3 separate regions of the Homo sapiens genome follow, and all the other regions are linked to region 1. Evidence: fine-mapped expression QTL. A gene starts in region 1. Each other region holds a variant in brackets. All regions are shown on one strand. Distances are between the middles of the regions.

What was found.
Region 2: its variant is fine-mapped to the expression of WNT7A in esophagus mucosa (GTEx, PIP above 0.99).
Region 3: its variant is fine-mapped to the expression of WNT7A in whole blood (TOPMed, PIP above 0.99).

What each region holds. Positions count from the first base shown.
Region 1 is chr3:13,878,593-13,881,430 of GRCh38, forward strand. WNT7A (Wnt family member 7A) reads right to left here and starts at 1,479. Exons shown (of 4, transcript NM_004625.4): 1 at 1,154-1,479. The coding sequence starts at 1,224. RefSeq lists enhancers at 1-453, 956-1,457.
Region 2 is chr3:13,825,954-13,828,453 of GRCh38, forward strand. The region is part of intron 3 of WNT7A (Wnt family member 7A); the gene reads right to left. Among named protein-coding and RNA genes, the nearest start is that of WNT7A, 53 kb to the right of the region's middle. The variant C/T (reference allele first, on the strand shown) is at 1,326.
Region 3 is chr3:13,768,933-13,771,771 of GRCh38, forward strand. No RefSeq gene overlaps it. Among named protein-coding and RNA genes, the nearest start is that of WNT7A, 110 kb to the right of the region's middle. The variant G/C (reference allele first, on the strand shown) is at 1,606.

The DNA of each region.
Region 1 (2,838 bases):
ATCCCCGCTCCAGAGACGTGGACTGGGGAAGTGACGGGGTAGGGGGGTAGTAGTGACAAAACACAAAGGGTCTGCCACGCACATCCCCTCGCCGCAGCCCCTGCGGTCCACCCCTCCTCAAAAGGGATGGTAATGGGTTCACTGCTGGGGGCTGGAGGGGCAGGGTGTGTGAGACCTACCAAGCGGGCCCTTCAGCGCCAGAACCTCTATCCATGCCCAGATCCCCCCGCCCCCACACCGCTCCGAGCCTCACACGCGTTGTCTTAAGTACAAAGGGTGACCGGCTTTGCACAAGCAGCTCCAGGACGCGTCCCGAGCTGCCCCCTCCCACCTTCCAGCCAGAGCGCCCCCGAGCCCCACCTCCACAGAAACGCTAGGTGAAGCCGGAGGGCTGCTCGCGCGCCCGGCCGCCTCTGCTGCCCAGTTCCAGGGGGCGGGGTGTCCCGCCTCTCTCTAGCGCTTGTCTCCCTCTGTGTCTCAGACCGCCTCTCGTCCCACCTTTGTGTGTGTTTGTTGGGGGTGGGACGTGCTGTCCCCTTGGCCCGGGAAGGGGCTCTGGGAGTCTAAGGGCCCCTGGAAATTGGGTGGTGCCAAGGCTCCGAGCGGCGGTTTATGTTTTTGCCAGCGAATGTCCTTCCTCCTGGGTACCTGTTCCCTGTTTGCACGGACCGGCCCCGCCAGCCACCTGGGGACTGCCCAGTCTCTAGGAACGGCTGTGCCGCGCCTCCTGAGAGAGTTCGTCTCGGGCTCCGGGGACTGAGCTCCCCGAGATTGGCTGTGGTCCTGGCTTGATGTTCCTGCTAGACCTGCTGTCCCTATGCCCGGGTCCGAAGGGTCCCCGGGATGGGCTGAACCTTTGCAGCAGCTAGCCCTCCCCCAGAGTCCCTCAGGCTGGAGCGTCCCTACCGGCTGTCTCTGGTCCTGGGGGATTCCAGACTCAGACGTCCTCAGGATGGCCAGTCCCCCTGCCTATATCTCCTGGGGTGTCCTGCGGGGGGCCTTTGTGCGTCCACCGCTCCCACACCGCACCCACCCGGCCTCTCAGAGAAGCTGTGGAAGTTGGCCGGCAGAGGCTCGCAGGCGGCACACCTCCCTCCCCGGGCCGTGCCAACTTTGTCGAAACACGCGCGGAAAGGGCGCAGGCAGCCCTTACCCGATCCGGAGGTAGACCATGCCCAGGCTGAGAAAGAGGTGGCCCAGGCAGCGCCGCGCTTTCCGGTTCATAGTCCCGATTGGCCGCCGGGGCCGCGGGCCGGGCTGTGCTGATCCCGCGGGCCGGCCCCGGCGGGGCAATCAACATAGCCCGCCCGGGAGGCGCGAGCCGAGGCGTCCCCGGGGCCGTCTGTCGGTGCGCCCGTCCGCGCGCTCCGCGCCTGAGCCTCGCCAGGAGCACGGGAGCCACGGAGCGGGAGGAGGGAGGGAGGAGCGAGCGCGGCGTGGGGCGACGCCGGGCTGCGCGCGAGCGACCGGTGCAAGTGTGCGAGACGCGGGGAGTGCGGGGGCGCTGCTGCCTCCAGCCCCCGCCCCTCCCTCCTTTCCCCCGTCCCTCCCCCGCCCCCTCCCCCGCCCGCCTCCCCGGAGCGCCCGCCCAGCGCCCCTGCGCCCGCGGGACAGGGCCGCCTGCACAAGGCGCGCGCTCGCGCCTTTCCATGCGCGCTCCCGGGGGCCCCCTCCCTGCTCCGGGGTGCAGGTGGCAGGCTGGGGAGCACAGCCCGGTTGGAGGCGGTAGGAGCCCGCTCGCCCCCCACCCGTCACTAACTTGCAGATTGCAGGGCGAGTGGGCGTCCAGAGGCTGCCCTCGGGTGGAGTGGACCAGACTCGGCCGAGAGGCCTAGTGCCTTGGTCTGCTGCCCTGCTCCCTCCAGCCCGGAACAGGGAGCTGGGGCTGACAGGGCACACCCCAGTTCCCCAACCCCAGCTTCAGGGGAGGGCGCCCCCTTTCGCGGAGCGACGGGCTGACTGGCTCAGTGTATTTCTTCCCTACTCCCACCTATTCGAGAGTGGCGGCAGGGGGTGCCCAGGTTGGGCAGCCTCCTCTGGGATCCTGCTGTTAGCCGACAGACTGAGTCGGGCTGAGGCCCAGTTGCCCCGCGCGGAACAGCAGTGGGGCGCCTGAGCCGCGGGAGCGTGAGGGGCGCAGCTGGCCGCTCAGAGCGCGCTCGCGGCGTCACCAGGCGGACGCGGCGGGTGGTGCACCTCGGCCTCGCTCCCGGGAACAGAATGCTTTGAGTGCCCTGGCCGACCCGAGGGGGCTAACACCCTTCTTTGGTGTACACCTCATCCAGTGAGCTAGGGGGAGTCTAACCGTCCCTGGAAATTGGGTGGTGCCAAGACTCCGAGCGGCAGTTTATGTTTTTGCCAGCGAATGTCCATCCTCCGGGTACCTGTTCCCTGTTTGCACGGACCGGTCCCGCCTGCCACCTGGGGGTTGCCCAGTCTCTAGGAGCGGCTGCGCCTGCGCCTCCGGAGAGTGTTCCTCTCGGGCTCCAGGGACTGAGCTCCCTGGGAGTGGCTGTGGTCCTGGCTTGGTGTTCCTGCTGGACCTGCTGTCCCTATGCCCAGGTCTGGCAAATCTGAACTCAGGTTTCAGCTGAAGACACTGAGGCTCAAGGAGGTGAAGGTGTTTGCCCAGAGTCACCAGCTAGCGAGTGGCACAACCATATGGGAAACAAAGTATGCCCAACTGTAGTAACCTCCTGCACCCAGTCCTGACTATCCTTCAAGATTGCCTTTCTAAATTACACACACACACACACACACACACACCCGAAAGCCACCATTCAGGTATTCATTCATATTCCATATTCTGTGCCAACCACGATAGTGGGCACCGTGGAC
Region 2 (2,500 bases), 53 kb before region 1:
GGCCAGGTCATTCACCTTGAAATCCCCCGCCTCTGATGAAGAGCCTTGTGTGCAAGCGGTGCTGCCCGGTGTTTGCAAGGGGAACAGGACCTAGGGCATGTCTGTCCACGTAGGCTTTCACTCATGCACCTGTTTCACAGTGAGGACCTACTGTGTGGTATTTGGCGTCACCCCTGCTGGGGAGTTCCCAGGAAGACTATGACACAAGGAGGTGCTGCTCCGGTTTTCTCTGAGCTTCCGGTCCCCACCTTCCCTGAGTTTGCAGTCCTTGCCACCTCTGAGCTTGTGATTCCAAACCAGAAGTAACTGTGGAATTAATAATTCCCCTGAATCTAATCATACATTGGTAAGTGCTATGAAGGAGTGAAAGCAACAGAGAAGGAAACTTGAACCCGTGAGATGCTCCTGTGTGCATCTCAAGGAAGCCTCCCCCAAGAAGGCCAGGGCTGAGCTGGAGTCAGATAACGGGAGGGATAAATTAGAACTGGCCAAACTCAGGTAGATGGGGAAAAGGCATTTCAGATTGGGAAACAGACACAGAGAACTGAAAGAGGGAGCAGGCTTAAGGAAGAGCACATGTTGAGCACATAATGAGGACATTTCAGGCATGGTGAGTGGCCAGAAAGAGGGGAATCTGGGGAGTAAAAGGGTCTTTTGGTGCTACCGAAATCTGACTCCAGTCAGCTCAGGCATCTACAGAGGATAATGTGAGTGCAGGGCCAGGCAGACTTCAGTCCCTTCCACAGAATAAAACAGTGGCTGAAACCAGCCAGAAGAGGGCTAAACATCTACAATTTTTGATATCTAAAAAATTGATTGCAAAATCACAGTATGGGAGAGACTGAGAAAGATTGAAATTGACCACAAGTTCAATATGAGCTAGGAGGCTACTGAAAAGCCAACACTCTGGGGCCATATTAACTAAGGCCTAATGCCCACAATAAAGAAGGGGATGGTCTTCCTATACAGTTTTCAGAACTGGACTATGCCTCAGCAGATGGAAAGAAACAGAGCATGTCTAGAGGAGAGGGCTGGAGGACCCACAGTGAATGAGCTGGAGCTGTTCAGCCTGGAGAAGGTAGTTTCTGGGATCCCTAGTCACTACTCCACAGGGTCTGCAGGCCTGACCCAGGACAGAGTGAGCAGGAAGGACTGTGTCCCAGAGCACAGAGCTGGGACCCCAGTTGTTGGCAGGAGTCAGAGAGCAGTAGATTCCTGCTCAGTCAGAGGGCAACCTCCCCAACAAAGCTCACCAGGGTTCAAGAGGGTTGCTGGTGAGGTAATGAGCTCCCTGTCCTGGAATGTATGTAAGCAGCAGCTGGGGT[C/T]TGTAAAGGGGACTCCTGCACCAGGTTGGGTGGGGCTGCAATCCAGAGCCTCCTCTGCCTGCCAGCCATGCCCCAAACCTGTCTGGAGCAGCAGGAAGGATTTTCTGCACCACTGGAGGGAGAAAAATCAATCTCTTTTTGACAGGTCCCCCAGGAAGTGCCAACAATGTACCAGGTGCTGCCCAGAGCCCGGAATTACTCAGGGTGGGGTTCTCAGGCCTGGGAGGGGACTGGGGAGAAACTTGGCTCCAGAAAATTCCTTGATTCATAATGCCAAATAGATACTATCGAATTTGGTGCTTCTGGGCCTGTCCCAGACCCTCGGGCTGCCCAGGGGACCTAGGGGTGAACTTCCTGGAAGAAGGAAGGATCCTTGGGAGGGGACATCAGACAGCAACCTCTGGCTCCCACAGGGTCCATGCCACATGGTGCTCCTATGACTGGAAGTGTCTGCCACCCTCCATAGCATTCTGAGGGGCATCGAATTTTAAAAACCAAAGGCTTCCCAGCGTTGAACACACTGCTTGCTGTCATCCCTGCCCCCAGCACCCATGGCAGGCACTCTGAAGCACTGGGCGCTCCAGGATCGATCCTGCGCTGCCCTACTCCAGGAATGTGCCCCCATTCATCTCCGCAGGCCCAGCCCAACCCAGCCTTCTACAGCCCTCCACAGTGCCACCTCCTCCACAGAGCCACCTGTCCCAGCCCCACCCAACCCCAGTCCTTATCTTGGTGCCTTGTTTTCTAGCAAGCCCAGTGAGACCTTGGAGCTTTGCAAACAGAGAGTCCTCAATGAGGCCTTTCCTAGCCCCCGAAACTGAAGTAGCCCCACTGGTCATTGCTAAGGATGGGTGACTCAGACCAGTCAGGGCCAAACTGAAGTGAGTCCTGGGGATTCTGCGCACACAGAAGACAAGAGCTGTTGGTTATCTCCCACCAGATACGAACAGGAGGGAATGCAGGGGCCAGAGCTGTGGACAGGCATCGTGCAACCACATGGGGCCAGAGGATGGCATCAACTAGGAAAGCAGAGCTGAGAAATAGAGAGGGGGCAAGGAAGGGGTGCATGCAGCTGGGTCCTGGGAATATCATTTGCACCCTGGATCAAGCCAGACCTGAATTCATCAACCCAAGACCACTGTGTTCCAGGAACTAATGAATACCCTTTGCTCTTA
Region 3 (2,839 bases), 110 kb before region 1:
CGTGGCCCTATCTTCACGGGACCCCCAGGTATTGGTTCCCAGCAGCCATGGGCTTGGCCTGTGCAAGGCACCTCAGATAAAGAGAGGAGGGGGCCTTGGACTCTGTCTCTGGAGGGAAGGCAAGATGGCTGCTTACTGCTTTGTCTGACAAATAATTCTCGGCACCTACCTGGTGACAGACCCAGTCTGAGCCGGTCTTTGCCTTAGGGAAACTTTCAAAGTGATACAAGAGATTAAAACCTGCTGATGCTATGGGGAGGGAATAACAGTGACCAGCATTTATTAAGCACTTACTGTATGCCAGGCCCTGTTTCCAGTGCTTTTCATGTTTTAACTCACCTAAGGCTCTCAGCCAACCACAAGGTTGGTATTTTCACAGGCTGAGGACACCACACGCAGCTAGGAAGTGTAAACTTAGGATTTGAACCTGGGCTGTTGGGCCCGAGAGCCCCTTTCAGAGAAGGCTGAGGACTTCTGAAGAAGTGTGGCTGCAATGCCGTAAAGGAGAATGGAAGAGGAACTTGGGAGAGGCCTTGCTGTTCCTTCTAGACCACCACCCTCTCCTGCTCACATGCCTTCAGTGACTTCCCAGTGCCTACAGGACCAGTGCAGGGCCTGGGGCTCCTGACCCCCATGCCCTCCGCTGACCTCACCCTTCACGGCTGGCTGTGCCCTTGCCTCCCTCACAGGGCTGTCCTGCCTTTTCTCCCTTTCCACAGGCCCTGCTCTGGCGTCCAATCCCAATCTCCCAGCTTCCCGGGTTAGGGTCAGTCTGAGCAGTGGCACCGTCTCGTGAGTTTCTGGTCCTGCCAGCCAGACGCACTTATGCCAGGAGGTTCAAGGGGTGCTAGTTTTTAAAACTGGGATTGTTTTATCACATTTTATTGTCTTTCTTGGTTAAACCCTTGAGTATACAGTAGATATATATGCATAGCAGAAAACCTGGAAAATAGGACAGTAAAAGACCAGCAAAGACTCAGAATCCTGCAGCCTTCCCCAAGAGTTAGCTGCTATTAACAGATGGGATCTGGCCAGTACACCTTTTCTTTTCTTTTTTTCTAGTAATGCATATTTTTAAAATGCATTTTCCTTTCCTATTTCAGGGTTTGTTCCCCAGGTGATCAGTGAGTCCTTCTTGCTTCTAGCCTAAAACTCTCGTATGGGGTTTTCCCTCCAGAGTGGGGAAGCCCTGAGAAGATGCCATTCTGGGTTGCAGGGTGGGCAAGAAGAGGGTCTTCCCTGACATGCGGTCAGAGAGACCAGGGGTTCTGAGTATCCCATGAAATGAGGACTAGGGGGTCGCTAAGTGACCTCTACAACCTGGAAGGCCCATTCCACAGGGCAGGCGCCTCTGTCTGTCTCGTCCATTCTTTAATCCCCATAGCTACAGCAGTATGGGCTAGGAACAGGCACTCACTAAGTATTTATTGGATGAATGAGGCCGTGGGTTCTGTACAGAGCAGAGAATATGCAGACCAGAGGGGAGAAGGCCTTGCCCATGGCCCTATGCTCAGGAGTCAGGAATCAGAGGCTGGGTTGTCCCTGCACGATGGGGTGGGGGTGGGGAGCCCTGAGGCCAGGATAGGGTGCTGCAGCTTCCTGGTG[G/C]GGTCAGAGGCCCTGCCCAGCCCCCTCCCACCATAGGGCAGAGGAAGTGGAGGCTGCATGTCAGAATGCCTGAGGACAGCCTGGCTGCAGAGCCATTTATCACCTGCAGCAATTCCAGGAATGTGGAAATAGGCCAAAGTCAGAAAAGCTTGGAGGGTGGGAGGCCAAGAGATCCCCCCAACCCCTTTTTTCAAGAAGTAGAGAAGCCCAGAGCCTTGGCACCTGGGATGTGTGTTACCTGAAGAATCAGACTCATGGAGCGTGGGCTAACTTTTGCTTTTAGAGGATGCCCACCACGTGCCTGGCACTGTGCAGTGAACTTCACACCTGGCCATCTGGGGCTAAAGCTTGTGCAGTGATGCCCTGTGCTTTCTTCAAACCTGAGCCAGGCTGGGGCCAAGCTGTCTGCCTAACACCCTGCATAGCTCCCGCCTGCTGAGAGGAAAAGTGGAATTCTCACAGAGGCCACAGCCCTGACTGAGCCAGGTCTCCTCCAGTCTCCCTCCTGCTCACTCTGCTCCAGCTGCTGCCCTGAGCCTGCCTCAGGGCCTTTGCCCCTGCTGTTTCTTCTGCCTGGGGTAAGTCTTCCCCATTCAGCTGCCTGGTTTATTGCTTTGTTTCCAGGGCCCTGATCAGAAATCACTTCCTCCGAGAGGCCTTCTCCGACCACCCTTGTATGAGAAACACCCCTAGCTGCTCCGCAGTCCCCTAGACATGCACTGTCCAATACAGCAGCCACAAGCAATGTGTAGTCTTGAGTACCTGAAATGTGCCCAGTGACAGTCCAGGTGTGCATAATGTCCAGTATGCACTGATTTCACAGACATGGCATGAAAACGACAAAATAACTTATTAATCATTTTTTGCATTGATGGCATGTTGACATGATAATATTTGGACCTAATAGGTTAAATCACCTATATTGTTAATATTAGTTCCATCCGTTTCTTCTTGCTTTTGTCCAAGCAGCTATGAGAAAGTGTAGAATTACACAGGTGCCTCACACACTGGGGCACCATCACCTGACCTGGTTTTCTTCCTGGCCCTCACCCGTCTGCCACATCGCGGGTTTACTTGTTCATCTGTTTATTATCCACCCTCCCCAGGAAAACACCAGCTCTGTGAGGGCAGGGATTTGTGCCCGTTTTGTGGCTGCTGTACCCCACACATGTAGAGATTATGAATGAATGAAGGGGTGCCCTGTGCCCGCATTGTGCTCAAGTGCTTAACCTTG